Linked DNA regions of Homo sapiens. The protein of the gene in region 2 purifies or fractionates together with the protein of the main gene of each other region. This does not show direct contact. Each region holds a gene or a part of one and is shown on either strand. Other genes may lie near its edges.

What was found.
Region 1: the proteins of UBE2J2 (region 2) and PKLR purify together in Homo sapiens (affinity purification with mass spectrometry; one large-scale study listed by BioGRID and IntAct). This does not show direct contact.
Region 3: the proteins of UBE2J2 (region 2) and CASP14 purify together in Homo sapiens (affinity purification with mass spectrometry; one large-scale study listed by BioGRID and IntAct). This does not show direct contact.
Region 4: the proteins of UBE2J2 (region 2) and ARG1 purify together in Homo sapiens (affinity purification with mass spectrometry; one large-scale study listed by BioGRID and IntAct). This does not show direct contact.
Region 5: the proteins of UBE2J2 (region 2) and MBL2 purify together in Homo sapiens (affinity purification with mass spectrometry; one large-scale study listed by BioGRID and IntAct). This does not show direct contact.

What each region holds. Positions count from the first base shown.
Region 1 is NC_000001.11:155,294,939-155,299,604, reverse strand, and holds part of PKLR (pyruvate kinase PKLR), read left to right. Parts: intron 1-3,848; coding exon 3,849-3,940; intron 3,941-4,036; coding exon 4,037-4,168; intron 4,169-4,302; coding exon 4,303-4,489; intron 4,490-4,666. UniProt on the Homo sapiens protein: Pyruvate kinase that catalyzes the conversion of phosphoenolpyruvate to pyruvate with the synthesis of ATP, and which plays a key role in glycolysis.
Region 2 is NC_000001.11:1,258,751-1,265,532, forward strand, and holds part of UBE2J2 (ubiquitin-conjugating enzyme E2 J2), read right to left. Parts: exon of another isoform or gene 6,081-6,782; coding exon of another isoform or gene 6,033-6,080; intron 4,637-6,032; coding exon 4,596-4,636; intron 3,641-4,595; exon of another isoform or gene 3,535-3,640; coding exon of another isoform or gene 3,519-3,534; intron 1-3,518. UniProt on the Homo sapiens protein: Catalyzes the covalent attachment of ubiquitin to other proteins. Seems to function in the selective degradation of misfolded membrane proteins from the endoplasmic reticulum (ERAD).
Region 3 is NC_000019.10:15,053,972-15,060,410, forward strand, and holds the end of CASP14 (caspase-14 precursor), read left to right. Parts: intron 1-1,186; coding exon 1,187-1,303; intron 1,304-1,384; coding exon of another isoform or gene 1,385-1,458; coding exon 1,459-1,562; intron 1,563-2,013; coding exon 2,014-2,118; 3' UTR 2,119-4,322; downstream 4,323-6,439. UniProt on the Homo sapiens protein: Non-apoptotic caspase involved in epidermal differentiation. Is the predominant caspase in epidermal stratum corneum. Seems to play a role in keratinocyte differentiation and is required for cornification.
Region 4 is NC_000006.12:131,568,693-131,576,212, reverse strand, and holds the start of ARG1 (arginase-1), read right to left. Parts: upstream 2,988-7,520; 5' UTR 2,931-2,987; coding exon 2,874-2,930; intron 2,248-2,873; exon of another isoform or gene 1,921-2,247; coding exon of another isoform or gene 1,918-1,920; intron 1-1,917. UniProt on the Homo sapiens protein: Key element of the urea cycle converting L-arginine to urea and L-ornithine, which is further metabolized into metabolites proline and polyamides that drive collagen synthesis and bioenergetic pathways critical for cell proliferation, respectively; the urea cycle takes place primarily in the liver and, to a lesser extent, in the kidneys.
Region 5 is NC_000010.11:52,763,561-52,769,295, reverse strand, and holds the end of MBL2 (mannose-binding protein C precursor), read left to right. Parts: coding exon 1-49; intron 50-785; coding exon 786-1,159; 3' UTR 1,160-3,916; downstream 3,917-5,735. UniProt on the Homo sapiens protein: Calcium-dependent lectin involved in innate immune defense. Binds mannose, fucose and N-acetylglucosamine on different microorganisms and activates the lectin complement pathway.

The DNA.
Region 1 (4,666 bases), about 150 Mb from region 2:
AACCCAGGAGGCGGAGACTGTGGTGAGCCGAGATCACACCATTGCATTCCAGCCTGGGCAACAGGAGAAAAACTCCATCTCACAAAAAAAAAAAAAAAAAAAAAAAAAAAAAAGTGGGCTGGGCTCAGTGGCTCATGCCTGTAATCCCAGCACTTTAGGAGGCCAAGGTTGGCAGATCGCTTGAGCCCAGGAGTTTGAGACCAGTCTGGGTAAATGGCAAAACCCATCTCTACAAAAAATACAAAACTTAGTTGAGTGTGGTGGTGCATGCCTGTAGTCCCAGCTACTCAGGAGGCTGAGGTGGGAGGATCACTTAAGCCCAGGAGGTCACGGCTGCAGTGAGTCATGATCGAGCCACTGTACTCCAGCCTAGGTGACAGACGAGACCCTAGAGAGAAAGAGAGAAAGAAAGAAAGAAGGAAAGAAAGAAAGAAAGAGAGAGAGAAAGAAGGAAGGAAGGAAGGAGGGAGGGAGGGAGGGAAGGAAGGAAGGAAAGAAAGCAAGCAGGCAAGAAAGAAAGAAAGAAAAGAAAGAAGGAAGGAAGGAAGGAAGGAAAGAAAGAAAGAAAGAGAAAGAAAGAAAGAAAGAAAGAAAGAAAGAAAGAAAGAAAGAAAGAAAGAAAGAAAGAAAGAAAGAAAGAAAGAAAGAAAGGAGTGAAAGTTGGCCGGGCATGGTGGCTCTTGCCTATAATCCCAGCACTTTGGGAGGCTGAGGCAGGTGGATCACCTGAGGTCAGGGGTCCGAGACCAGCCTGGCTAATGTGGTGAAACTCTGTTTCTACTAAAAATACAAAAAATTAGCCAGGCATGGTGGCATGTGCCTATAATCCCAGCTACTCGGGAGGCTGAGGCAGGGGAATCGCTTGAACCCGGGAGACAGAGATTGCAGTGAGCCAAGATCACGCCATTGCACTCCAGTTTGGGCAACAAGAGCGAAACTCTGTTTGTTTGTTTGTTTGTTTTTAAAAAAAGAAAAAAAAGCTGGGCGCGGTGGCTCACGCCTGTAATCCCAGCACTTTGGGAGGCCGAGGCGGGCGGATCACCTGAGGTCAGGAGTTCGAGACCAGCCTCAACATGGAGAAACCCCGTCTCTACTAAAAATACAAAAAATTATCCGGGCATGGTGGTGCATGCCTGTAATCCCAGCTACTCAGGAGGCTAAGGCAGGAGAATTGCTTGAACCTGGGAGGCGGAGGTTGCGGTGAGCCAAGATCGTGCCATTGCACCCCAGCCTGGGCAACAAGAGCGAAACTCCGTCTCAAAAAAAAAAAAGGCCAGGCGTGGTGTTTCATGCCTGTAATCCCAGCACTTTGGGAGGCCGAGGCAGACTGATCACGAGGTCAAGAGATCGATACCATCCTGGCCAACATGGTGAAACCCCGTCTCTAATAAAAATACAAAAATTAGCTGGGCGTGGTGGCACATGCCTGTAGTCCCAGCTACTCGGAAGGCTGAGGCAGGAGAATCACTTGAACTGGAAGGCAGGGAGCAGAGATCGCACCTCTGTCCTCCAGCCTGGTGACAGAGCGAGATTCCATCTAAAAAAAAAAGAAAAGAAAAGAAAGAAAAAGTGAAAGTTTTAAGTGCTATGGGGAAAGAAATCAAGTGTGATAAGGGCATCAGGAGTACGAGGGTGAAGACAGGTTGCAGCCCTAAATAGGGAGGTCAGTTATTATTGAGTAAATGAGACCAAAGGGAAGACTTGAAGGAGATGAGAGAATTAGCCATGCAGAGACCTGGGGGAAGAGAATTCCAGGAAGAAGGATCAGTCAGTGTCAAGGCCTAAGTCAAGAAGGTTAGAAGAGCTAGAAACCATCAAGGGGGAAGAGCGGCAGACATGAAGAGACTGTGTACGGACAGGAAGATCAGGTGCAGCTTTGTAGGCCATTTTTAGAATTTGAGTTGCGTTTTCCTCCGAGTGAAATGAGAAACTGCTGCAGGGTTTTGAGCAGGGGAATGACAAGCTCTTATTTATGTTTTAATAGAGCCTCCCCTCCCCTGCTGCTGCACTGAAAATAGATGGGGGGTGGGGGGAAGGGTGCCCCTGCAGTATTTCTGGCTCAGACCAGTTGGCGGCAGTGAGGTGGTGAGAAGTGGTCAGATTCTGAATGTATTTTGCAGGTAGAGCTGACAGGATTTGCTAATTGATCGGATATGGGGTATGGAGTGTGGGCGAGAAAGAAAGGAGTCAAAGGTGACAGGTGACTCTGAGGTTTTTGCCATAAGGAACTGGAACGATGCATTAGCCACTGAGCAGGAAAGACTGTGGTGGAAGGGGTTGGGGGGAGAGCAGAAGTTTGCTTGGGACATGTTGAGTCTGAGATGCTTATTAGCCATCCAAATGTGATAGAGGGGGCAGTCAGGTACACAACTCTGGGTTTGGGAGAAAGGTCTGGATTGGAGAGACATTTGGGAGTTGGCTACATATAGATGGTATCTCAAGCCATGAGACTAGTTGAGACCACCAAAGGAGTGTAGGTGAAATGACGGAGAAGAGAACAGGGTATCTAACGTTAAGGGGAGGAACAAGGAAAGGAGACTGGGAAAGAGCAGCTAGTGAGGTAGGAGTCAACCAAGAGAGGGTGCAGCCCTGGAGGTCAGGTGAAGACAGTGTGTCAAAGAAGGATGTATGTTCAGGCTGCTGATGGGCCAATAGAGGAGGACTGAGCATTGAGCATTACATGGAGCAAAAACACAGAGGTTCTTGGTGACCTTGACAAGAACAGATGCAGTGGAGAGATGGAGGCCAACGCCTGAGTGGGGTGGGTTCAAGGGAGAATGGGGGAGGGGAACTAGAGGTAGCAAGTACAGATAACTCTTGCGATGAGTTTTGCTGCAAGTGAGAGCAAATACTGGGACTGAGGGGAAACCAGGAGATTAAGAGAATTTTTTTTTAATGATGAAAGAAATAACAGTAGGTTTACCTGCGGATGGGGATGATCCAGTAAAAAAGGAAAACATGGCTGGGCACGGTGACTCACACCTGTAATCCCAGCATTTTGGGAGGGCGAGGTGGATGGATCACCTGAGGTCAAGAGTTCAAGACCAACCTGGCCAGCATGGTGAAACCCCTTCTCTACTAAAAATACAAAAAAATTAGCCAGGCGTGGTGGTGCACACCTGTAATCCCAGCTACTCAGGAGGCTGAAGCAGGATAATCACTTGAACTGGGGAGGCAGAGGTTGCAGTGAGCTGAGATGGTGCCACTGCACTCCAGCCTGGGCGACAAGAGTGAAACTCCCCCCGTCTCAAAAAAAAAGAAAGAAAAAGAAAAGGAAAACATGGGTGTCACAGAGGACCACAGAATGGCTTAATTTATGTCCTTGAGCAGGTGAGAAGGAGGAGACCTAGTGCACAAGTGGAAAGACAGATAGGGACCGAAGAATGAGCCAACCTGCTCTCGGCTAGCAGCTGCCCCATAGCAGTGCAGGCATGGGATAGAACTCAGCTCTCCTCAGTCCATGAGGCCTCCTAGCTCTAAAAGCCCGCACCCAAACGCCCTCACCTGGCTCCCAGCCCCTGCCCTACACCCCATACCCTGGGGTAGCCGGGCAAGCAGCACTTACATACCCATGCCCATACAGTGCCCATACATGCCCATACAGTGACCTCAGGCCTGGCGGAGGGCACTCCCCTCCGATTTCCACACTGCTGCCTCCCCAAGGGGATGGATGTTGGCTTGAGAGGGAAGGGGAGTCTGTGATCTGTGGGCAGGGGTTGCATCAGGGAATAAAGATCAGGTAACAGGACGCCTGTGGCGTGAGGCGTTCTGAGAATGGTAATGGGTTGGGTTTGGTTGCCTCTCATGTTCTGGGGGAACGTTGTCTGAACGTGAATCTCTGGTTCTAGGGCCAGCATCTCGCTCCGTGGAGCGCCTCAAGGAGATGATCAAGGCCGGGATGAACATTGCGCGACTCAACTTCTCCCACGGCTCCCACGAGGTGCGGGACGGGCCGCCGGGCAGTGGGTGGGGCAGGAGGATGCCTCGAGGTCCTGGCCACCTTCCCCTGAAACCCTCGCTCCGCTCCCTCCCCCAGTACCATGCTGAGTCCATCGCCAACGTCCGGGAGGCGGTGGAGAGCTTTGCAGGTTCCCCACTCAGCTACCGGCCCGTGGCCATCGCCCTGGACACCAAGGGACCGGAGATCCGCACTGGGATCCTGCAGGGGGTGAGCAGTGGGGCTGGGACTCGCTGGGCCAGGGCCGGAAAGGCGGCGCCTGTAGGGTTGGGCCCAGGCGTGGGCAGGGGCGGGTCCCGGACTCCGGGGCTCAGAACTCACATCTCCTCTGGCTCCCTCCTTAGGGTCCAGAGTCGGAAGTGGAGCTGGTGAAGGGCTCCCAGGTGCTGGTGACTGTGGACCCCGCGTTCCGGACGCGGGGGAACGCGAACACCGTGTGGGTGGACTACCCCAATATTGTCCGGGTCGTGCCGGTGGGGGGCCGCATCTACATTGACGACGGGCTCATCTCCCTAGTGGTCCAGAAAATCGGTGCGGACGCGCCTCCCGCCCTGACCACATCCGTGCGCTGGGCACATTCCCTTCTCCTTGGCTCCCCCATCAGCCCTCAGACCGATCACACCTTCCCCTGGCCACGCGTTTTTGCCAGCCCGTCCCAGGAGTCCCCAGCGTGTAGACTCTGCGCTCACCCTGGGTTTGGGCTGGACT
Region 2 (6,782 bases):
TGTTGGCCCCACCTTCAAATCAATCTAGAGCCGCACACCCTGTGTGGCTTCCCCTGGCCCTGCTCCCAGGCCCTCTATGAGCTGCCTCATGGCAGCCCCGCCCCAGCCCGAGGCCCACACGCTGGCTGCCCAGGCTGCACCTGGAGTTGGTTGGAAATTCAGAGCTTGGGGCCAACCCCAACCAGAGGACCACAAGTGCACAAGCCAGGACTCCCTGGCCACACCTGCATGCGTTGACGTGTGTGTGCATGCCATCAGGACGCGTGTGTGCGTGTCTGAGTGTGTGCATGCCATCAGGACGCACGTGTGTGCATGTGTGTGTGCATGCCATCAGGACGCACGTGTGTGCATGTGTGTGCATGCCATCAGGACGCACGTGTGTGCATGCCATCAGGACGCGTGTGTGCGTGTCTGAGTGTGTGCATGCCATCAGGACGCACTTGTGTGCATGTGTGTGTGTATGCCATCAGGACGCATGTATGTGCGTGTCTGCATGCCATCAGGACACGTGTGTGTGCATGTGTATGTGCATGCCATCAGGACGCGTGTGCACGTGCGTGCCATCAGGACGCATGGGCGTGGGCATGTGTGTGCGTGCCATCAGGACACGTGCATGCGTGTGTATGCGTGTGCATGCCATCAGGTTTGAGGAGCACTGGCCTCTGTCCTCCCTTGGGCTCCCTGTGCACAGCCCTGCCCCAATGCGAGTCCCCAAATCGCCACGGGCTCTTCTGCTCTAGACCCACCCTGTGTAGGATGCAGCACCCCTGCCCCTCGAGTGCTTTACATCTTGCAGGAACGCTCATCATCTTAGGCCGCCTCGGCATCCACTCTGAATCTAGGCTGGACTTTCTCTGACCAGAAGCGGGGCTGCCACCCGCAACAATTTTCAGTTCACATCCCCCTTCCTCGAGCTGATCCACCCAGACGCCCGCCCTACGCACTGTCCCCTGGTGACCACCCCCCATGTCCCCACGGACCCCACGCCCCACATGGACTGTGCAGCCACACCACGGAGTCCCCCACAGTCACAGCGTGGCCCCACGGGGCTCGTGCCCGCTTGTATTAAACCCACCAGTTAAAACTCCCCAAGGGAAACCTGTGTGCAGAACGCCCTGGACCCAATAAAGGGTCGGCCTGGGGGTTCCAGTCTCTCTCCACTTTCCCTGGCCTCCCTGCATGTGTGGCCTCCCGCACGTGTTTCCCTCGTGTCTCTCTCTTGATCACTAGGGGCTGCTCTCCCTCCCATAGATCCTAAATGAAAACACGGCTTCACTGTCTGCCTCCCCTGAAGACACACATGGCCAAGCAGGGGGACGCTGCAGCTTCCTCTCTGCACTCTGCTCAGGGCTGGCATTCGAGGACACGCAGGAACAGGGGTGGAGTCAACAGTGGAGGGACGGCATGAGCAAGTGCCACTGTCACCCATCCTGGCGTGCGGCCACATCCACCAGGGAGAGGCGAAGCCCAGGAATGACACCCAGAAGACACAAGAGATCATAAGGAAAGGCCAAACTGGAAAGTGAGTGAAAGAAACAGGCTTGCTTAAAAGAGGAAGCGGGAACAGCCAAAGCGAGGCTGGAACGATGTTTAGCTCGGTGCTAATGGGCAAGAGTGACTTACACGGCAGGAAACAGCCAGTTGAGCGCAGAGGGTGCTGGGAGATGGACACCCTGCTGCCTCACTGCGTGCGCACACCTGTCGGGATGGGAGACGGGCGCCCTGCTGCCTCACTGCGCGCACACCTATCGGGAAGCCCCAGACGGCTATCCCACTGCTTGTCACCCGCCAGAGAAACCCAAGACAAAGGCACCAAGAGCCACACACACACAGACGTTCACAGCACCAGATGAAAATCAGGAAGCACCCACTTGTCCTGAAGTGGGTCCCTGGCAGCTTGAACATCCCCACACCCCAGGCCATCTGCTGAAAAGCCTGAGGCAAAGGCCTAGCTGGCTACTCTGCCCCATGGCCTGTCCCTCCTCTACCACTGCCTGACCCTCATCACTGGGGTAAGTCTTGAAACCACAGACTCCACTTCATTCTTTAGAAAAATGGTTTTAACTGTTCTAGGTCCTTTGCCTTTGCATGTAGCTTGTGTAGTATAAAAAACTGAGATTTTGTTAGGACTGTGTGAAATCTACAGATTCACTCAAGGGGAATGATTTAGCAACATTTGTAGGAAGCCAGCTCTGAACTGTCAGAGTGGGCACGCCTGGGCAGCACCAGGGGCAGAACAGCCACGGAACCCAGTGCACGGAGGGGACGCAGCTAATGCACAGGCAGGAAAAGGGGTCAGAAATCCCGAAGTCAGGAAGGAAGCTGTCGTCAGCAGCATCAGATACCAGAGGCTAAGAAACTGAGGACTGAGAACAGCCCCTCGGCAAGTGGCAATTCGGAGGGGTTCCCTGGAGACCCTGAAGGAGAGCAGAGGGCAGGGCTGCAGAGAGCAAAAGGCATCCCCCAGTGAGGGGGAGGTCCGCGGGGACGGGAGCAGCAGTGCCATAGAGGGAAATGGGAGGGGCAGTAGGAACACACATTCTCTCTCTGAAGGGAGGCTTTCCTGAGACCCAGGACCAGCACAGAGCCACACACGGTTGTGGGGAACAACGGAAGCGATGGGAGGGGACCAAGATAAAAGCACAAGTGACAGGGTTGGGGCTGGCAACGGCCGCACCACACCCAGGGGCTGCCCCCTCTTCTCCCAACTGTGTCCAGCCCTGTTGGGGGAGCAGCTCATCTCCACCAGCAACTGACCTAGCTGGTGAAGTTGAGGGAGACTGGGTGTGGATACAGAATTAATATTCACTATTTATTTTTAAAAAACTAAAACCACAAAACAAACAAAAAAAATGTAAAGCTGGCATAATTTTGCTTGTCAAAGACCACCACCCATTTTGGTTTTTTTTTTTTTTTTTGAGATGGAGTTTTGATCTTGTCACCCAGGGTGGAGTGCAGCGATCTCGGCTCACTGCAAGCTCCGCCTCCTGGGTTCAAGCGATTCTCCTGCCTCAGCCTCCTGAGTAGCTGGGACTACAGGGCCCCACCACCACGCCCAGCTAATTTTTTGTATTTTTTTAGTAGAGACAAGGTTTCACCGTATTAGCAAGGATGGTCTGGATCTCCTGACGAGTTTCACTCTTGTCACCCAGGCTGGAATACAACGGCACGACCTCGGCTCACTGCAACCTCCGCCTCCCGGGTTCAAGTGATTCTCCTGCCTCAGCCTCCCGAGTAGCTGGGATTATAGGCATGCACTACCACACCCGGCTAATTTTGTATTTTTAGTAGAGATGGGGTTTCTCCGTGTTGGTCAGGCTGGTCTCGAACTCCTGACCTCAGATGATCCGCCCACCTCAGCCTCCCAAAGTGCTGGAATTACAGGCGTGAGCCACCGCGCCCGGCCGACCACTACTCACTCGGTGGTATATATTCTTCAGATCAGCTGAAGGCACACACACGCATCGTAACAAGTACTTTAACACGCCCTGGACACCTGCTCCCGGGCCTTATCTCACCACGGCCTGCTGGCATCCCCAACGCTGGTCATGGGCAATGACACGATGATGGAGGGCCCACCCTACAGATGTACTCCCGCACTCTGGCTGCCCTAGTTGCAGATGATCCAGAACTGGGATTCCTGGGCCAAAGGAGAGTCCACAGGTGTGGCTGTGTTAACTCGGCCAAAATGCCTTCAGGAGAGCCTTTTTCATTCTTACCCACCCACAACCCTCCCGACAGTCCAAAGCAGGGGTTGCAAACCTTCTTCTAGCAGCAGCACTCTCTTCTAGTGAAATCTCATCCAAAGCCTCCACACACAGGCAAACAGAGCCTGCTGCTCCAGCCACCTGAAGCCGGGGCCCTGTGGCTGGACAGCAACTGCTGACCTGGCCCTGCTCTGCCTTGTGCTTGCCGGCGGGACAGTATTCACGGGCACACTGACTACTGACCTGGTCCAGATCGAGGCTGGCGCCAGCCTCCGCCAAAGGCCCCAGAAACTTACTGACAGCTCCAGCATCTTCTCTATAAATGACACTAGGTCTCTAGGTGGTGTCTGCTGACCTGGAGGGGTCAGGCTGCTGGATCAGCCTTGGTAGTCGATGAAGGGCTGAGGTGCTGGACAGGTCCTGCAGCCTACCGAAGCCCCAGGTGCCACCACACAGGGGTACTTCCACTTAGCTCAGAGACCGTCCTGGGGATTGCGAAACCCTGGGGGCGCCCAGCACAGAAGGCACACTGAATAACTGAATATATGTGCCTTTCCTTTGATGATATGCACTGGGTCTTAAGAAATAGTAGAACAGGCCAGCTTCAGTGTTTACCCCGGTCTGGTTTTCTCAGCTATGGCCCTATGGTGTCAGAGGCTGGTGAACACAGACGCTACAGGCGGCCCTGCAGGCTGAGACACATCAGCAGAGCAAACACTTCCAGCGTGTGGAGAAGCAGACGAGGAGGAGTTCCAACTAAGCCAATTTAACTAGCACACATCCAAAGTAGAAAGGCTGCTGTTTGCAAATAAAAGATGTTGAACAGGCAAGGCTGACTGAGAATATAAAAACCGCCTGGTGTTCTTCTCCTAAGCACAGAATCCTTACCTTCATAAGGGGTCATCTCTGGGCCTCGGACGACATAGTGCCTAAGGGAGAGAAGAAAATTACTTGGGATTTGAGGACAGCAAATTCTCCAAAATCTGAATCATTCCAAGCCTGGGGTTTATAGAACCCAGCCAAAATTACATTCACATTCAGGCAGTGAACAAATGAAGGTGAAATGTCACACAGCCACACGGCTTCAAAACCCCCGTCTCTTCTACCGTGGGTGCTTTTAGTCTCTTGTAACAGGATCTTAGAGACTATACTTTATAAGTTTACCATAAAGTACCTTTGTTTCGACAATATAACATGCACGAAGCTCATCTTAATAATAACTGAAATCTTAAATAAATTTTAATTTCACAGTACATTACTAAGATGTACTTGAAGACTGTAATCCCAGCACTTTGGGAGGGCACGGTGGAAGATCGCTTGAGCCCAGGAGCTTGACACCAGCCTAGGCAACATAGCAAGACCCCACCTTTATTTAAAAAAAAAAAGTTAGCCGGGTGTGGTAGTGCATGCCTGCAGCCCGCCTACTCAGGAGGCTGAGGCGGGAGGATCACTTGAGCCCAGGAGTTTAAGGCTGCAGTGAGCTATGATTGTGCCACCACATCCCATTTGGGCAACAGAGTGAGACCCTATCTCCAAAGAAAAAACGATGTACTTTGAAATGTATATTCTTAAATGTACTTATATATAATGTGTTTTTTGATATCACACATGCAGGCTAAACAGAACACAGCTAGTGATGCGGGGCCGGCTCGGTACCCCCAGCCCTTTCTCGTGCTCCTGGAAAAACCATAAGTGACTTGAGCAGCTGTCCTGGAGCAGAAGGAACAGGAACTGCCGTGATTGTGTCCAAAGCCACAGTCCCCACACAGAGCTCACCCTCAGACCAGGGGCAGCAGCAAATCGACTAAACACTCCTCCACACAAATAAATAAGGCTTCTGCTTTACGTAAAGAAGTGTCTGGGCTTTACAGATTCCCAAACGAAACAGAAGAGCACAGAGAAGAAAGTAAAACCAGCTAGAAATGCCAGAAACCAGACATGGCTTCAACTGCCAACACCGGCCAACACCGGCCATCATCTTTCCCCTTGCTCTGCCCCAGGACATGTGTGCCATCACTTTAAAACTAATGGGGGCTGGGCTCGGTGGCTCATGCCCGTGATCCCAGCACTCTGGGAGGCCAAGGTGGGTAGATCACCTGAAGTCAGGAATTCGAGACCAGCCTGGTCAACATGGCGAAACTCCGTCTCTACTAAAAATACAAAAATTAGGCCAGGTGCGGTGGCTCACACCTGTAATCCCAGCACTTTGGGAGGCTGAGGCAGGTGGATTGCCTGAGGTCAGGAGTTCAACACCAGCCTGGGCAACACGGTGAAACCCTGTCTCTATTAAAAATACAAAAATTAGCCAGCCATGGTGGCACACACCTGTAATCCCAGCTACTCAGGAGGCTGAGCCAGGAGAATCGCTTGAACCTGGAAGACGGAGGTTGCAGTGAGCCGAGGTCACACCGCTGCACTCCAGCCTGAGTGACAGAAATAGTACTCAAAAGAAACTACTAATGGGATGACGTATAGTAATGTATACTAATGGGATGATGTATCAGCAGAGCCAGCTGGTATGTTTTACTCAAAAAATGCCATTATCATGTGTCATTGACCCAGGAACCCAGTGGCTCTGAGCTCAGCACGCGATGCACCCAGGAATGTGGCCTTACGTTGTTACTGTGCCCAACCTGCGAAAACTGGGAAGAAATGAAGAAGTCATCCTCTTCCTGAGACAGAGCCCAGCAGCCTTGGGGCGGCTGAGAGAAGATGGGATCCACGTGGCCCATAGCGCACCCCACAGGCCTTTTCTGGGAAAGCAGTCTTCTCTCGGGGAAGGGAGAGACACCTGCCGAGGACCTGCCAGGGGCTCTCGCACTGACGCTGCTGTCCTTAATGCCTCAACAGTACAGGCAACATGGGCTACGCTGAGCCCCTGCTCTCCTGGAAGTCTGGTATTTTGGTATTTTGGCAGGTGCCAGGCAGAGGGTGCCTAGGACCAGCCCCATAAAGTCCCTGGGCCTTCCCCTAATGTTTTAGTTTCCAATGAGTTTCTCTGCTCAACATTCCACACATGCCGTCCAAACCCAAGCCTGCTGCTGGGAATGGAGCACAGAGACTTTGCCCCACATG
Region 3 (6,439 bases), on a different chromosome or scaffold from region 2:
CAAGAGCACAGAGTCTGTGGTTTGTTGTTTCTGTTTTGTTTTTTGAGACAGCACCCAGGCTGGAATGCAGTGGCGGAATCTCAACTCACTGCAATCTCCATCTCCCAGGCTCCAGCCGTCCTCCTGCCTCAGCCTCCTGAGTAGCTGAGACTACAGGCTCCCGCCACTATGTCAGGCTAATTTTTGTAGACAGGGTCTGATTATGTTGCCCAGGCTGGTCTCAAACTCCTGAGCTCAAGCAATCCTCCTGCCTCAGCCTCCCACCATGCCCAACCAAGTCTGTGTTTTTATCCAAGCCAGTCCCAGATCCAAAGCCCCAGCTGAAGCCAGGCACCATGGCTCATGCCTGTAATTCCAGTACTTTGGGAGGCCCAGGCGGGAAGATTTTTTGAGGCCAGGAGTTCAAGACTAGCGTCGAGCAATGTAACAAGAACCCAGCTCTATGAAAAATATTAAAGATTAGCCAAGGGCATGGTGGCATGGGCCTGTGGTCCTAGCTACTCAGGAGGCTGAAGTAGGAGGATCACTTGAGCCCAGGAGTTAAGAGGCTGCAGTGAGCTATGATTACACCATTGCACTCCAGCCTGGGCAACAAAGCAAGCCCCTGTCTCTAAAAAGTTAAATTAAATTAAAAAGCCCCACTGCACATGGCATACCACAAAAGCATCCTTTTTTTTTTTTTTTTTTTAGACGGAGTCTTGCTCTGTCACCCAGGCTGGAGTGCGATGGCACAATCTTGGCTCACTGCAACCCCCACCTCCCAGGTTCAAGCAATTCTTCTGCCTCAGCCTCCCAAGTAGCTGGGATTACAGGTGCAAGCCACCATGCCTGGCTAATTTTTGTATTTTTAGTAGAGATGGGATTTGACCATGTTGGTCAGGCTGGTCTCAAACTCCTGACCTCAGGTGATCTGCCTTCCTCAGCCTCCCAAAGTGCTGGGATTACAGGTGTGAGCCACCGTGCCCAGCCCTTACCTTTCTTTTTAAGAGGCGACATCTCGCTCTGTCTCCCAGGCTAGAGTGTAGTGGTGCAATCATGGCTCACTGCAGCCTCAAGCTCCCAGGTTCAAGTGATCCTCCTGCTTCAGCCCCCCAAAACACTGGGAATACAGGTGTGAGCCACCCTGCCCAGCCCCTTTCCTTACCTTTCTCTCTGACTTTGCCTCCTCCTCTTCTTGTTGTTTCAGAACAAAGGGACCCCGGTGAAACAGTAGGTGGAGATGAGATTGTGATGGTCATCAAAGACAGCCCACAAACCATCCCAACATACACAGATGCCTTGCACGTTTATTCCACGGTAGAGGGTATGAGCTCCCAGCTGGCCCAGGGATCCCTCTGCTCTTCCCCCTCTCCTGCCACTCCCAACTCCTGAACCTCTCCTCCAGGACCCACGCCCTTCCAGGATCCCCTCTACCTACCCTCTGAAGCTCCCCCGAACCCACCTCTCTGGAATTCCCAGGATACATCGCCTACCGACATGATCAGAAAGGCTCATGCTTTATCCAGACCCTGGTGGATGTGTTCACGAAGAGGAAAGGACATATCTTGGAACTTCTGACAGAGGTGAGTTGACAAAAGGTAGCTGGGACCACCGCCCAGGCCAAGAAGGGTGCAGGCGGAGGGGGCTGAGCCTCCTCCTAACCCCTCTCCATTTCCCTCAGCTCCAAATCCAAGCCAGATCTCAATACAGAAACTAAGAAGCCCACTTTCCAACAACTTTCCCAAATGCAGGGACTCTTAAAAGCCACAGTATGGGAGATAAATTTCTATAAACAAATCCCCCTTGGATATAAACAATGTTTGGGCAAACTGTTTTCTTTTAATGTTTATATGTTTTTATTGCAAATTATTTAAAAAATGCCCAGCCAAGGATTCCATACAAACTATGGTATAGGAAGAGGCCACAACGGTCTCTCATCTTAGGACAAGAATACCCACCTGCCCCGTTCCCTAACCCTCCCCCCATAAGTCCATGACACTGACTCCTCCAAGCTCACCACACCTGTTGCTGCAGGTGACCCGGCGGATGGCAGAAGCAGAGCTGGTTCAAGAAGGAAAAGCAAGGAAAACGAACCCTGAAATCCAAAGCACCCTCCGGAAACGGCTGTATCTGCAGTAGAAGTAGAAAGACCAGGAGGAGCTTTCCTTCCAGCATTCTTTCTGTCTCACAGAAATTTAGAGGCAGCTCTTACCTCTCCCCAAGATCTTCTGTTCCCAAGGCCAAATGGCACCCAGTTTCTTTTCCATCACACCCTTCATGCAGGTCCTCCTGTCCTTATTAGAGCAAGCCAGCCAAAACTTAGCACAAGGCATGGTGGCAACATTAACATCACCTCCCTCAGGCTGGACTTTCTATCTTTATTAATGCAACCGAAGAGACCTAAGAGTGCATTCACTTATCCCACTTTCTGTTCCTGTGGTCTTCTTTCTCCCATGAAGCAGAAACTGGATAAAGCTCAAGATTTTCCATAGACAAACCAAAGCCCACTCATCCCCTCCTACCCCAATCCAACCTCTGCTGGCTCCTGCATCTCACTTGGAGGTCAAACCTCCTCCTGAGGCCAATGCATTCCCAACTTCCAGTTCTTTCCTTTACCCTGGAGAGTTAGTAAGGTAAGAACCATTCTTTCTCTCCAAAACCACTCCTCCTTGGCTGGCAAGTTGGTGTCCTAACTCCGTTCTCTTCCTAGCTCATGGCCTCTCTAGATAATAAAGTTGTCTCCTCCTTTCTGGATCTCTTCCTCCTAACACCCCTCCCCTGAAACCCTGGACTCTGCCCTCTCTCCAAGAAAATCCATCTATTCAACTATTCTTGCATTCAATTACTCTAAATGAGAGCGTGTTGGAGCTATGGCAAATTCCCTGTTGTCACCTTGCTATTTTGCAGACAACATAATATTTAACCTCTCATAACCAGAGAGGTTAAATAATTTGTCAAATGCAATACAGTAAGACAGAGGCAAGGACAAGGTTTGACTTCCAGCCCAGCCTCTTTTCCACAACCTGCTAAATCCTGATCCATCTGAAAACTTTTCTAATTAGTGAAGATGACTAATAAAAATTTTCCCTATCTCCAAGGTAGGAGCTTTCTGGAAGTTTCTAGAAATTTTCAATAACCACCAGCCAAGGTTACCTCCAGGTAACCTTGCAGCACCAGGCTGGAAGTCAGATCGGCTTCACTATCTTCCAACTCTACAGCCTGTATCTCTCCATCCCCAGCTTTGACCTTTCCTGCTCAAGTAACCTACGGGCACATCCAGCGTCACTAAAAACTCAGGGCTTTTCTTCCCGGTTACTCCTCCAAGCGTTCCCTGGTATCCTCAACCTCAGATCCCAGGTTCAGATTTCTGCAGTCAATCTATGACCCCTCTCTTCTTGCATCCTTCATATGCCACCAGACACCATGCCCAGTCCAGCCTGATTTTGAAACAACTTTCATGCCGGTCTTCTCTTCCCTGACATGTTACTGTCCAGGCTCAAGTCCTCAGCTTCTCATATCTGCATCTTTGCAACCAACTTCCTCCCTTGCCTCTCTGCTTTTCCATCCCACTTTTCATGTGTCCTCCATACCATCTATAACAGTGATCTCCCTGGAACACTCAAGAAGACACAACATACCATATTATTTAAAGACCAGGGTACTGGACAGTGGCTCACACCTGTATTCCCGACTTTGAGAGTCTGAAGCGGGAGGATCACTTGAGGCCAGGAGTTAAGAGACCAGCCTGGGCAACACAGCAAGACCCTGTCTCTAAAAAAAAAAATTAATTAACTGGGTATGGTGGCACATGCCTGTAGTCCCAGCTACTCAGGAGGCTGAGGTGGGAGGATGACTTGAGCCCAGGAGTTTGAGGCTGCAAGGAGCTATGATCATGCCAGTGCATCCCAGCTCTAGGTGAGACAGTGAGATCCGGTCTCCAAAATAAATCAATCAATCAAATAAAGACCAAAGTCAAACCGCACATCAGGATCTCTCACACCCTTCCAATTTTGCCATCTACCAGCACTTAGCTAAACCCATCTCCCATCTCTTCCACCATGAATTCACTCTTTCAAAAAGGCTAATGTCTTCTTACTCACCCTTGCCTCTAAGCCTTTGCTATCACCATTTCCCCCAAGCTGGAGGGCCCTCCCTCTCCCTTTACCCCTCTTCCACTACCTCCCACCCCTACTTTTTCCAGAAAGCCATTTCCTCTCTTTTTTCTGATTGATCCTTCCCTCTCACCCAGGATTAGATGCTGGAAATGACCACTTCTGGAGGGCAGGGAACAAGCCCTTAATCTGCATAATGAGTGTTCAATAAACAGTTGTCAAACTTTGAAAGAAAGTGTTGAAATCTTTGTTCTGTGCTGAAACAGTGAGGCTGATACAAAAGGAGTTATGGATTTAATTTCTTTTTTCCCAGTGGCTGGCTTCCTCCCAGGTGTGTCTATCATGAATGGAGAATCAGGAGCTTCAGCCTGTGTCTTCTTTCCTTTTTTTTTTCTTTAAGAGATGAGATCTTGCTCTGCCACCCAGGCTGGAGTACAGTGGCACCATCATAGCTCACTGCACCCTCGACCTCCTGGGCTCAAGCAATCCTCCCACCTCAGCCTCTCATGTAGCTGGGACTACAGGTGTGCATCACCACACCTGGCTAATTTTCTTATTTTTCGGTAGAGATTGGGTCTTGCTATGTTGCCGAGGCTGGTCTCACAGTCCTGGTCTCAAGCAATCCTCTTGCCTTGGCCTCCCAAAGTGCTGAGATTACAGATGTGACCCACCACACCGAGCTCCTGTCTCTTTCACAAAAACAGACGTGTTGGGAATTTGTAAAGTTACAGGCCACACTTTCATGCTGAATGGCTATCTTTTACATAATTGTTCCATCTCCAGAATGTTTCCAAGGAAGTATGCAGACAGAAAAATGTCACTTTTCAGAACTATAAGGGACATTGGAGGTGGGCTAGTTACAGCATCAAAGACATTTAGCAAGTGTGCCATCTCTCTAGCCTGGTGCCCATGGCAGACATGACTAATCAATCACACCTATTTTTCCTAATGAACTCAAGTGTTACCTCAAAGCCTTTCTCCTCTGAGCACTTGGGAAGCTGACACCTGTCTACTGGCATAAGTACATCATTCCTGATCCATTTGAACCTCCACCTTAGGAAGTCAATCGTCTATGGTCATTTTATGTGGTACACCCAGGAATCTAGCCATGGCAGTAACCGGGGTTTTATCCATGGAGATGGAAAACCAAGTGGCCAACACAGGGGTGGGTTCGAAGGGCCAAGAGATCTGGGGTGATGCATGCACTGAGCTCTATACACTTACTTACATGCCAACCTGCGGTCCAAACACCCAATGATTCTGGGAGTCTCCAAACATGAGGGTCAGAAAACTGTGTCTCACTCACCAGATCCAGTCTGCAGTTTGTTTTTATCAACAAAGCTTTGCTGGCACACAGGCATGTTTATTCACTTACATACTGGCTACGGCTGCCTTCAACCTACAATGGTAGAGTTGAGTAGTTAGAACAGACAGCATATGGCCCACAAAGCTGAAACTATTTACTATTTGGCCCCTTACAGAGAAGGTTTGACAACCCCTATCCTAATATCTTTCCAAAAATTCCAATTTTGCTATCAATACTAATTTTGATGTCAATGACGTATCACCTCACACCTGTTGGGATGGCTATTATCAAAAAGATAGGAGATAAGCGTTGGTGAGGGTGTGGAGAAAAGGGAACCTTTGTTGGTGGAAAATAGAATGGTGCAGCCATTGTGGAAAACACTATGGAGATTCCTAAAGAAATTAAAAACAGGCTGGGCATGGTGGCTCACACCTGTAATCCCAGCACTTAGGGAGGCTAAGGCGGGTGGATCACTTGAGGGTGGGAGTTCAAGACCAGCCTGGCCAACATGGTGAAACCCCGTCTCTACTAAAAATACAAAAATTAGCCAGGTATGTTGGTGGGCGCCTGTAATACCAGCTACTTGAGAGGCTAAGGCAGGAAAATCGCTTGAACCTGGGAGGCGGAGGTTGCAGTGAGCTGAGATCGTGCCACTGCATTCCAGCCTGGGAGACAGAGTGAGACGCTGTCTCAAAAAGAAAAAAAAAAAGGAAGAGGCTGGGCGCGGTGGCTCACACCTGTAATCCCAGCACTTTGGGAGGCCGAGGTGGGCAGATCACGAGGTCAGGAGATCGAGACCATCCTGGCTAACACAGTGAAACCCCGTCTCTACTAAAAATACAAAAAATTAGCCGGGCATGGTGGCGGGCACCTGTAGTCCCAGCTACTTGGGAGGCTGAGGCAGGAGAATGGCATGAACCCTGAAGGCAGAGCTTGCAGTGAGCCGAGATCACGCCACTGCACTCCAGCCTGGGCGACAGAGCAAGACTCCATCTCAAAAAAAAAAAAAACAGAACTACAAAATAATCAAGTAATCCCACTC
Region 4 (7,520 bases), on a different chromosome or scaffold from region 2:
TAGCTGCTTCAGTGATGATATAAAATGTCCTAGTAACAAAAACAGGATGCCCTTAACACTGTTGGGGACAGGGTGTGTCAGTAAAGGCTGCAAGAAATAAATGCTGTTTAAGCTGAGTCTTGCGACATGAGTAGGTAGTTAGGAAAACAAGACAGAGTGATGGAGAAACTCTGCAAACCAAGGGAACGATTGGGCAAAAGCATCGAAAGAGTGTGACATGAAAGAGACCTACGTGCATGTACTCACATAAGTAAGCTAGAGCTCTTGGGGAGAAAGCAGGCAACAGAAAAAGTCATCATCTGGGAGCTGAAAACTACAAACAAAGACCAACCCAGTAATTTCAAGTTTTGGCCTGCTTAACAGTATGATGGGAAGTTCTACCCTTGCCGTTTTGACATTAGGGAAACTAACACTCTTCCTCCAAGGGGCAAGTCTTCCTCAGTCCCCTGAACAATTAGAGGTCTAAAGGCACAGTTCCTTTCTGTATCTTTCTGATTTTAATTTCCAACAGAGCTTTTAGATGCAGAAGATTATTACATGTTGTCAGATGAGACAATGTGTTAAAAGACACGTGTGTCTATCTTTAGGATTGGGGCTGTGGCATCAAAGTAAGCAAGTATTTTTTCCCCATTCAAAGGAACAGAAGACTTGCCCTGGGTGCCAGGCAAATCCTTGATGTTAAATTCCTGTCCCTGGCAGCAAGGGACCCGCCCTATCCTCTGCCTGACACATTTTGCTTCTTTACTCCCTTTTTGCTTGACACACCTGCCTCTCCCCAATCAAGTAAACATGATTTCTCCTTCTTTCAACCCCAATAGGGTGCTGCTTGGTTCATGTTTTGCCTTTAGTTTTGTGTCTGTTTTTGTCTTTTCCTCATTGTTAGATTTCAGTCCAGCTTGCTTTACATGTGGGGCACTATATTTTGTAGTGTAGAGCTGACATATAGTAGATACTCAATACTCAGTTTGATAAAACTCCTTGGCTTTTTTACCCTTCTCCCTTTCATATTTTAGAACAAAGCTCATAGACCCCTTAGTTGACACTATATTTGCTATAACACAGCCATTAAATTTTCTAGAATTCTTTTTTATTTGTTTTATTCAAATGGCTTCTCATGATTGGGCTTTCCTCTTGCTTGCTCTATCTGCCCACTTTGGAAATTGCTTTGTCAGCTCCACCGACTTTCTAAGCTGGGCCCAATCCCTAAATGGCCACAAGTATAAGGTCGCCTTTGGAGTTGAATAGTCTGAAGAGACATCAGTGCAAATCAAGGGCATAGGCATTGGAATCAGATTATCTTGTCTGGAATTATGCAGTCAAGGCTGTGTGACGTTGAGCACATTACCAAACCTCTCTGGGCTTTTTTTTAACCCAACTGTAAGGTAAAAATAATACCTACCTTATTGTTTGTTCGCTGCCTTGCAAGCCTTTCAAGGAGGTGAGACAGGGATGAAGCCCTTTCTCAGACTCAACATTTTAGTCATCTGCCCTCTAATCCTTTCCTTTTGCTTATTTGTCAAACTTGTACCTCCTTTAGGTGAGGACAAATACTTATATGTTGGCCATTTTATCCTCTCTACTCTATGACTTAGTGTAAAAAATCTCTCTCTCTTAGTCCTTACAATCATGAGACAATGAACTCCATTCTCATGACCATGTTTTAATGGGAGGAGGGTGGTAGAAGGAGGACACTTGCTTCCCTTTTGTGAGGTTTTTAAATTATATATTTATTATAACCTGTTCAAGAGTGGGTGAGAACAGTGTGGATTTTAAAAGGAACATTTCTGTGTCAGCAAAATGTCCCTGTGTTTGGGAGAGACTTTTGGAGGATTTCCAGGGGAAGCAAAGTAGTATTTACTGACAGTCCAAATGCAGTTTGGGCCTCTAACCTCTGGCCTCTCTCAATTTGTTTTGCAGTAAAAAGTCAGAGTACACAGCAAGGGTTCCAAATTAAGAGGAAGCAAAACGCTGCCCAGATCCTGAGAAACCTGGAGAAAATCAACCTTAGTAGTTTCAACTCATACATTGTCTTGTTTGATTTTGTTCTTTGTTTTTTATCCTCTTTAAGCACAGATGCGTGTTGAAGTCTAAGGTGTTCTGTCATCACACTCTCTTTACTAGAATAAGTGTGCCCAGGCAGAAAAAAAAGTGTATTCAATGTTGCTGGCATGTGTGGATTCACAGCTCGTGGCTGTAAGGAAATCTGGGGGTTTCATAAATCCATTAAAATCCTTTTAGAGTTGCCAACCCGCAGTAGGATTTTCTTTCTTTTTTTGTTCTTTTTTTCCCCTTCCAAGTGAGGCACATAAAGGATTCTACCTAGTCCATGAATGAACAGTTTCATAGAAACATTAAAACCCTAACATAACATGAATTATTCACAAAGTTGCATGAAACAATAATATTTAGGTTATCCAAATTATAAGAAGCCTGAAGGTTACCACCAAACTATTAAATTTTTCTAGGCATTAATTACATAACTAAACAAATGTATTTCTTAAAATTCTCTCTTCCTCTACATACACACAGTAACATCAAAAACAACAAGAGCAACTAAACCTCAATGAGTAGCTACAATGCAGAAAGAGTCCATTTCAATTCAAAGAAAAATATTTTCTCCTAAAAAATATGAGAAAACATTCTGTAGGTTCAAATGAATTTAGCCTTGGCTGAGATCACGAGCCACAAAAGTAAGTGGATATGTGACTATAATTATACAATGTTGGAAAATGGTGAGAGGACTTTAAAATATGCATTTCCTGGCCAGATTGTATCAGAAAACTGAACTAACTAGACAATAACACCTTACAAATTTTGAAGTCCAAAATTTTCAACTAAATTCCAGGAATTCAAAGAAAGACTTTTTTCCTTACCTGTCCCTTTGAGAAAGGAGCTCCAATAATCCCTATGGTTCTGGACTTGGCGCTCATGCTCTGACACTTCTCTTTGCTGCACTTGAGCTCTCCAGTCAGTCAACCCTCAGTGACAGAGGGCGCATCTTTTTTTTCCATTTATACTTGGGTTGAATAAACAACCTTTATCTAATGAGGACAGCTGGCTCCACCCACTAAACCAAAGAATGACAGTCAACAGTCTTGCAATTTTTCATACATGGAGTAACTATATGGTTACTCCATGTATGAAGTAACTATATGGGGTTACTTCATACATGGAGTAACCTAACTCTGAGTCTAGGTCTCTAATCAAGTGACAATTATTCATGTTCTCACTTCACACCCTTTTAAAAAGCCAGCCAGATGACATTAACCTGACTTCAACAACTGACAAGTTTCACAACTACAGAAGAAGTCCTATTGTTCTGGCTCAGCGAACTCAGGGCAAGGCCCTTTCCTCCTCCAGATCTCTGAAGACGTCCTTGTAGAAGAAGGGCCGGGCTTGGCAAGATCGTCTGTCACATCCCTTCCAGCCCTAAAATCCTGAGTTGAGATTTCACACATGAGGGTAAATGGTTAATCCATGAGACACATTTCATAAACTTTTAGGGTATAATATAATAAAGAGTATATAACTTCCTTTTTTGATGATTACTTTAAAAAATTAGTTACTTGATTGGTAACCCAGAGAGGTTACCATTTTTGAAGTATGGTGTACAGGAAAATAATTGTAGAATCATATCATAATCAAAGTATAGAAATAAAAATAGCTAACATTGAGTTTTTACCATGTGTCCGATGCAGTTCTGTTTCAAAATACCATATTTATATTTATACCAATTTTATGTGAAGTCTCATCATTGGTGCCATTATACTGATGAATAAACTGAAGCTCAGACCCGTTGCCAACATAGGCTGTAGAAGAAAAGTCGGGATTTAGTCTCTGCCATTCTGAATCCACTTAACCGTCGAGCTTATAGTCTAAATGCTGGGAAGGTGTCAACCTCTATGCCCCTGAGCTACCATTTGTCACCATACAAAAGTATGAATTTAAAATAAAGGCACCTTAAAGATCCTTCCGACTTTAAAATTATGTAATTGTAATTTAAAGGGAAAATTCACTTAGTAGAAACTAATTTCTTTTTCCTATTGGTGGGAAAGAACATTTTGGAATTTAAATTCCATGAGGTCAGAGAATTTTGTCTGCTGTATCCCCAGGGCCTAGAAGAGTGTTGGTGTATAATAGGCACTCAATAAATATTTATTGAATGGATAAATGAGGAAACCAAAGTCTCATGGGTCCATTTTGATAGGACTGTTTTCCAAATAGGTTTCCTACCTTTTTCTTGTGGGTTTGCTTGTATATCCTAAATATTTACTTGTGGTATTCCTCATATTGCCTAGATATTAACCTTATAGCATTGACATTGCAAATAACTTTTCCCAACCTGTCAGAAATCTGATAACTTTTTATATGTTATCACTCAAAATCCTCAATTTTAAAATAGACACTTGTATAATTTCCCCCGAATGCTTTGTGCTTTGGAAGTCTTATTAAATTCCTGCCACCCCATCAAATTGTAGGTATGTAGTTTTACATTTTCTTCCATTTGCCTTAGAGCTTATCTTTCTCACTTAGTTCCTGAATCCATCTTTGTATGTTATGTAAATTTTCCAACTCGTTTTTCCTCTATCATTCATGCATCAGTTTCCTCAACAACACCCATTGAATAGTCATTCATTTTGCAATTGATTGGAGTGCTGTCTGTCACTAAACTCTTTCTTCTGTTCCATTGACTTATTTACCTATGGCTGCACCAGATCCATCAGGTTTTATCAATACAGTTTTGCGGTACATCTTATCATTGTTTAGGCAAGAGTAACTGTTTTGCTCTTCTTTTTCAAAATTGATTTACCTTTTATGGGTCTCTATTCTCCTATAGTTGGAATAACCTAATTCCTTAAAAGTATTTGCTAGAATTTTTACTAGATTTATAAATCAATCCATGGAGATTTGCTAACTTTCAAATTTGATTGCTAGAATTTTTTCTTTGAAAAATTCACATCCTGAAAGTTCTTTGTATGCCAAGCTGAGATTGCCTTCCTGTCATATGAACCATTGGTCACCACCCTTTAATCCAAGTAAAGCACATTATCTCTTGGCTGTCATGTCTTTCTTGGATTTCTATTGTTTAGGCTGAATATTCCCAAATACCTCACTAATTTCTTGTGTTACATAGTTGCCACTTTCCTTCAGGTCACCAACTTGGTCGCTGTCTTCAAAACATCTCGCTTCCCTCTGCCTTTCCTAAATAGGGCATCCAGAACAAAATGCACATATCCAAATACAGGTGGAGTTATCTGGTCCATCAGACACAAATTTGATAACATTTGACTTTTCCAAGTCACTGATAAAAATGTTGAATAAGGCAGCACTTTTACAAACACTCTGTGACATTCCACTGGAAACCTTAACCCAGATTGGCATAGCCCCATTAATTAATCATCAGTTGAGATACAACTGATTACTAATTTCCAACTCAACCACTCCATCCTGTTCACAAGGACATCGTAAGGAAATTTATCCGGTGTCTCAATAAAATCTCATCACACTTTACTACCTTTTCTTCTGCCAATCTGACTTCCCTGTCAAAGTTGATGGGCTGACCTTGACAGGTCCAGTTCTTGGTGAACTCATGCTGACTTCTAGTGATTGCTGCTTCCTTTTTATTATTAACACAAGCTATTTTTTCAGTCTCCAAAGCTGTCATCTCAAGACTGCTAGAGGAAGAAGATAAGGGGTGTCTCACCTATATCACTCTATCAAAGATACACTTTCTTCAGCTCAATTCTTTCATTTATCTCAGGGTTATGTACATTGAGGTTTTAAAAGCCCTTCTAACACTGCAAGTCTCTTAACCAAATGTTGAAAGAAAAATCCTATCTGGCATTTTCCTGGGAATGAGACCACATCTTATTTGACCCTAATCCAAAGCTACTGGAATGAGATCTGACACATAACAGGCCCTTGTATTAGTTTCCTATGGCTGCTGTTACAAAGTACTTGTACCACAAACTGGGTGCTTATAAAAAATAAAAAATAAAAAATAAAAATAAAATAAAATACAATTTTTTTATCCATAGTTTAGAGGATAGAAGTCTGAAATCCAGGTGTCGGCAGAGCCATGCTCCCTCTGAGACCTGCAGGGAATCCTTCCTACCTCTTCCTAGCTGCTGGAGGTTTTCTGGCAATCTTTGGCATTTCTCGGCTCATTAGGTGCATCACTCCAATCCTCCATCTTCACTTGGCACGCTCCCTGTGTCTCTGTGTTTTCACATGGCTGTCTTCTTACAGGGACGACAGTCATATTGGGTTAAGCCCCCCACCCACCAGTATGGTGTCATATTAACTAGTTACATCTGCTATGGTCCTGTTTCCAAATACAGCCACATTCTGAGGTACTGAAGGTTAGGACATCAACATATCTTTTGGAGGGATGTAATTCAACCCCTAGCAGCCCAAATTAATATTATTGAAATGATAAAGAAAGCATGAATTAAAAAGTTACATAATGAGGCCAGGCGTGGTGGCTCATGCCTGTAATCCCAGCACTTTGGGAGGCCAAGGCAGGTGGATCACGTGGTCAAGAGTTCGAGACCATCCTGGCCAACACGGTGAAACTCTGTCTCTACCAAAAATACAAAAAATTAGGCGAGTGTGGTGGCAAGTGCCTGTAATCCCAGCTACTCAGGAGGCTGAGGCAGGAGAAGCACTTGAACCCGGGAGACGGAGGTTGCAGTGAGCCAAGATTGCACCACTGCACTCCACTCCAGCCTGGGTGACAGAGCAAGACTCCATCTCAAAAAAAAAAAAAAAAAAAAAAAGTTAAAAAAAAAAAGTTAAAAACAAAAAACTTACATAATGAGAGGGATGAAAAAAATGACACACTTTTGCCCTCTACTTGTTTTTCTTTCTGTTGCTCCAAACTACAGCCCATTTCTGCATTGTCTTTTCAACAGCCAGCTAACAGATAAGAATTCTTTCCAGATGAGGCCCAGGATTCTTAGCACTTTTACCAAAGACTGGAATATACACAAAATTTGAAAGACTAAATCTTGAATCGGGAGACTTCAGGGAATCATTTTGCTTGGTGCATTTCCTAGACCCCTTAAATCCAATACGGTAAGGTTGGACCTGGTCCTGGAACACTACACACTATGATTTTATGGAAATGTTCAAACAGGATGATCTCTGGGTAAGTTACATAGTCATTTCTTTGAGTAGGAACTCTCTTAACCCCTTAAGGCATATTAGTAGCCTAAGTAGCATGGGTCACCATAAAAAGAAGGTTCATAAGAAGTGTCTGGCTCGGGTTGCTTCACAACTATATGTTAACAGACGCCTACTCTTTCCTTCCTTTCTTTTTTTTTTACCCTCCCAGAATTGAAGCGGCACTCTTACGAATGTGGAGGCTATGGGAAACAAACTCTTAAAGAGCAGTGCAACTGTTCTCTCTCTGAGCATAGGGAGCTCAAGGCAGCACTGCTCTGGGACCAGGTGACAGAGAGGAACTCAATGAGGGAGCTACACCTACTTTGGTGCCCTGAGGTCTCCAGAGATGTCAC
Region 5 (5,735 bases), on a different chromosome or scaffold from region 2:
GCCTCAGAAAGAAAAGCTCTGCAAACAGAAATGGCACGTATCAAAAAGTGTAAGCTTTTTCTCTTACTCTCCAGGCAGCTTGAAGTTTGGGAAAAATAGAATGCAACAAATATTTGTTGAATGCATATAATTTTCTGTACCCTGCTAGGCATTTCTCATATTCTTACCTCATGAAATTCTCACAACATTTTGGTAGAAATGGAGGCAAAGGGAAGTTAAATTACTTGTTCAAATGCACAGAGCTAATAAATGGCAGGGGTGGTTTATAGATGGAAGTCAGTCTGACTCGAGAGACCCTAATCCTTTACCGTCTGATATTGCTCACTGAAAATGGGACTTATATCCCTTTGTTGCACTGGTATTGAGACCTGGCCGTGGGGTCTAACCTGCCTGGGGCAAATATTTTCAGACATTTTTTGTTTGGTCTCAAGTTAACAATTTAGAATTCAGAAGTCCAAATTATATGTCTTTTAGAATTCTGATCTGAAAGCACAGAGAGGCCTTTGTACCAGTCTGTCTGTTCACATTTGGGTTGCCATATTTAACAAATAAAAAGACAAAGCACCAGTTAAATTGGATTTCAGCTGAAAAACATTTTTAGTATAAGTGTGTCTGAAAAATTATATGGGAGATATACTAAAATATTCATTGTTTGTCTGAAATTCAAATTTAACTGGACATACTATATTTTATCCGGCAACTGTACTCTAGAAGACTTTTTCTTGAGAAATACCTTGAGTTGGGCTTAAGGATGAGTCAGTTTCACCCACTTTTTCACATTTTAGGGCTCACCTTCTCTCTGGGCAAACAAGTTGGGAACAAGTTCTTCCTGACCAATGGTGAAATAATGACCTTTGAAAAAGTGAAGGCCTTGTGTGTCAAGTTCCAGGCCTCTGTGGCCACCCCCAGGAATGCTGCAGAGAATGGAGCCATTCAGAATCTCATCAAGGAGGAAGCCTTCCTGGGCATCACTGATGAGAAGACAGAAGGGCAGTTTGTGGATCTGACAGGAAATAGACTGACCTACACAAACTGGAACGAGGGTGAACCCAACAATGCTGGTTCTGATGAAGATTGTGTATTGCTACTGAAAAATGGCCAGTGGAATGACGTCCCCTGCTCCACCTCCCATCTGGCCGTCTGTGAGTTCCCTATCTGAAGGGTCATATCACTCAGGCCCTCCTTGTCTTTTTACTGCAACCCACAGGCCCACAGTATGCTTGAAAAGATAAATTATATCAATTTCCTCATATCCAGTATTGTTCCTTTTGTGGGCAATCACTAAAAATGATCACTAACAGCACCAACAAAGCAATAATAGTAGTAGTAGTAGTTAGCAGCAGCAGTAGTAGTCATGCTAATTATATAATATTTTTAATATATACTATGAGGCCCTATCTTTTGCATCCTACATTAATTATCTAGTTTAATTAATCTGTAATGCTTTCGATAGTGTTAACTTGCTGCAGTATGAAAATAAGACGGATTTATTTTTCCATTTACAACAAACACCTGTGCTCTGTTGAGCCTTCCTTTCTGTTTGGGTAGAGGGCTCCCCTAATGACATCACCACAGTTTAATACCACAGCTTTTTACCAAGTTTCAGGTATTAAGAAAATCTATTTTGTAACTTTCTCTATGAACTCTGTTTTCTTTCTAATGAGATATTAAACCATGTAAAGAACATAAATAACAAATCTCAAGCAAACAGCTTCACAAATTCTCACACACATACATACCTATATACTCACTTTCTAGATTAAGATATGGGACATTTTTGACTCCCTAGAAGCCCCGTTATAACTCCTCCTAGTACTAACTCCTAGGAAAATACTATTCTGACCTCCATGACTGCACAGTAATTTCGTCTGTTTATAAACATTGTATAGTTGGAATCATATTGTGTGTAATGTTGTATGTCTTGTTTACTCAGAATTAAGTCTGTGAGATTCATTCATGTCATGTGTACAAAAGTTTCATCCTTTTCATTGCCATGTAGGGTTCCCTTATATTAATATTCCTCAGTTCATCCATTCTATTGTTAATAGGCACTTAAGTGGCTTCCAATTTTTGGCCATGAGGAAGAGAACCCACGAACATTCCTGGACTTGTCTTTTGGTGGACATGGTGCACTAATTTCACTACCTATCCAGGAGTGGAACTGGTAGAGGATGAGGAAAGCATGTATTCAGCTTTAGTAGATATTACCAGTTTTCCTAAGTGATTGTATGAATTTATGCTCCTACCGGCAATGTGTGGCAGTCCTAGATGCTCTATGTGCTTGTAAAAAGTCAATGTTTTCAGTTCTCTTGATTTTCATTATTCCTGTGGATGTAAAGTGATATTTCCCCATGGTTTTAATCTGTATTTCCCCAACATGTAATAAGGTTGAACACTTTTTTATATGCTTATTGGGCACTTGGGTATCTTCTTTTGTGAAGTACCCGTTCACATTTTTGTATTTTGTTTAAATTAGTTAGCCAATATTTTTCTTACTGATTTTTAAGTTATTTTTACATTCTGAATATGTCCTTTTTAATGTGTATTACAAATATTTTGCTAGTTTTTGACTTGCTCCTAATGTTGAATTTTGATGAACAAAATTTCCTAATTTTGAGAAAGTCTTATTTATTCATATTTTCTTTCAAAATTAGTGCTTTTTGTGTCATGTTTAAGAAATTTTTGCCCATCCCAAAATCATAAGATATTTTTCATGATTTTGAAACCATGAAGAGATTTTTCATGATTTTGAAATCATGAAGATATTTTTCCATTTTTTTCTAATAGTTTTATTAATAAACATTCTATCTATTCCTGGTAGAATAGATATCCACTTGAGACAGCACTATGTAGGAAAGACCATTTTTCCTCCACTGAACTAGGGTGGTGCATTTTTGTAAGTTAGGTAACTGTATGTGTGTGTGTCTGTTTCTGGGCTGTCTATTCTAGTCTATTTGTTGATGCTTGTGTCAAACAGTACACTATCTTAATTATTGTACATTTATAGTTGTAACTATAGTCCAGCTTTGTTCTTCTTAAAGTCAAGATTTCCATATAAATATTAGAAACAGCTTCTCAATTTCTACAAAATCCTGATGAGGTTTCTACTGGGACCACATTGAGTCTATCAATCAACTTATGCAGAACTGGCAACTTACTACTGAATCTCTAATCAATGTTCATCATGTATCGCTTCATGTAACTAGAATTTCTTTAACTTAATTGCTATGTTTTGACATTTTTAGTTTAAAAACCTTGTATATCTTGTTTTGGTGGTTTTAGTGATTTTAATAATATATTTTAAATATTTTTTCTTTTCTATTGTTGTACACAGAAATACAGTTAAGTTTTGTGTGTAGTCTTACGATGTTTAGTAAACTCAATAAGTTTATTTCTTAAATCTAGTAATTTGTAGATTCCTCTGGATTTTGTATATGCATAGTCATGTAAGCTGAAAATATGGCAATACTTGCTTCTTCCCAATTGCTTTACCTTTTTTCTTACCTTATTGCACTGGTTAGCAACCCCAATACAGAGACCACCAGATCAGGTATAGACTCCTGAAAGACAATATAATGAAGTGCTCCAGTCAGGCCTATCTAAACTGGATTCACAGCTCTGTCACTTAATTGCTACATGATCTAGAGCCAGTTACTTTGTGTTTCAGCCATGTATTTGCAGCTGAGAGAAAATAATCATTCTTATTTCATGAAAATTGTGGGGATGATGAAATAAGTTAACACCTTTAAAGTGTGTAGTAAAGTATCAGGATACTATATTTTAGGTCTTAATACACACAGTTATGCCGCTAGATACATGCTTTTTAATGAGATAATGTGATATTATACATAACACATATCGATTTTTAAAAATTAAATCAACCTTGCTTTGATGGAATAAACTCCATTTAGTCACATTTTATCTTGTGTATGTATTATTGGAGTGGACTTGTTAATAGTTTGTTTAGAACGTTTGCACCTATGTTCATGAGAGATACTAGCTTTTTTTCCCCTCCTTAATGCACTTGCTATGGTTTGGGGTCAATGTTATGTAAGCCTCATTAAAATGAGCTGTGATGTGCTCTCATGCTCCTTATTATCTAAAATAATTTGTGTAAAATTATACTTTAATGTTAGATAAATTCACCAGTGAAGCCATCTTGGAATGGTGTTTTCTGTTGGGAAATGATTTTAATTTCAGATTTAATTTCCTCATGATCTAAACCTATTCATGTTTTCTGTCTTTTGTTCGGTTTCAGTGAGTTATATTTTTCAATGAATGTGTCAATTTCCTCTGAATATATATGTATTGGCATAAAATTGTTACAATATCTTTGTATTTCTTTTCAATATAAGTAGGATCTATAGCAATGTCTATGTATCTGTTATGATTATTTGCATTTTATCTTTATTTTATTGTATTTTTTTTTGAGATGGAGTCTCACTCTGTCACCCAGGCTGGAGTGGCTGGAGTACAGTGGCACGATCTTGGCTCACTGCAATCTCTGCCTCCCAGGTTCAAGAGATTCTCCTGCCTCAGCCTCCCAGGTAGCTGGGATTACAGATGCCCACCACCATTCCTGGCTAATTTTTTTAATTTTTTGTGGAGACGAGGTTTCGCCATGCTGGCTAGGCTGGTCTCAAACCCCTGACCTGAGGTGATCTACCTGCCTCAGCCTCCCAAAGTGCTGGGATTACAGGCATGAGCCACTGTGCTTGGCCCATCTCTTTTTTTCTTAATCAATCTTGCAAAGGATTTGTCCATTTTATTAAATTTTTCCAAAAACTTCTTTTTGGTGTTTACTAACCTCTATGATTACATTTATTTATATCTGTTCCTGTCTTTATCATTTCTTGTATCGATCTTCTGTGGGTTTAATTGGCCATTCTTTTTCTAGCTTCTTTTAATTGACATTTAGAGAACTGATTTTCTTCCTTCCTTCTTTGCTAATATAATCATTTAAAGTTATAATTTTTATTTAAGAACTATTTCAGCTGCATACCACAGGTTTGGATATGTATCTTTTCCCACCAATTCAAAATAGGTTTTTCATATCCAATTCAAAATATTTTATAATTTTCATTGTGACTTCTTCGACTCATGGTTTATTTATAAGTGTGTGGTTTAATTCCTAAATATTTGAGTATTTTAAAAAGCTATACTCCTGTAAGTGATTTATAGTTTAATTCCACTGTATCCAGAAATATACTTTTATATGAGTTCAATCTTTTGAAATTTGTTAAGATTTTATTTTATGATCCAGTTTATGATTTAGAATGGTAAATGTATTATGTGCACTAGAAATAATGTGGTTTTTACAGTTGATTAGTGTATCATTAGGTCAGGATATGAATCTTCTTTGTATTTTCTGTATTCTCACTAATATTTTGCCCTTTTAGAAGGAAATAACAAAGATCAGAATAGAAATAAATGACATAGAGAGTAGAAAAGCAAATAGATCAATGAAACTCAAAAGTTAATTTTTGTGAAATGATACAATTTCCAAACTTTAGCTAAAATAACTAAGAAAAATACAGAGAAGACTCAAAATCAGAAATGAGAGGAGACACGACAACTGATAACATACAAGTACAAAGGATCATAAGAGCTACATTCCTTTGTGTTACATTGTTTTCTCTTTACATTCTGATTGTCTCTCGCTTGCTCGCTGTCTTCTTTTAAAGTTTTGTTTCAGAAGAACTAAAAAAATCTAGGTTTAAAATGTACAGATATCC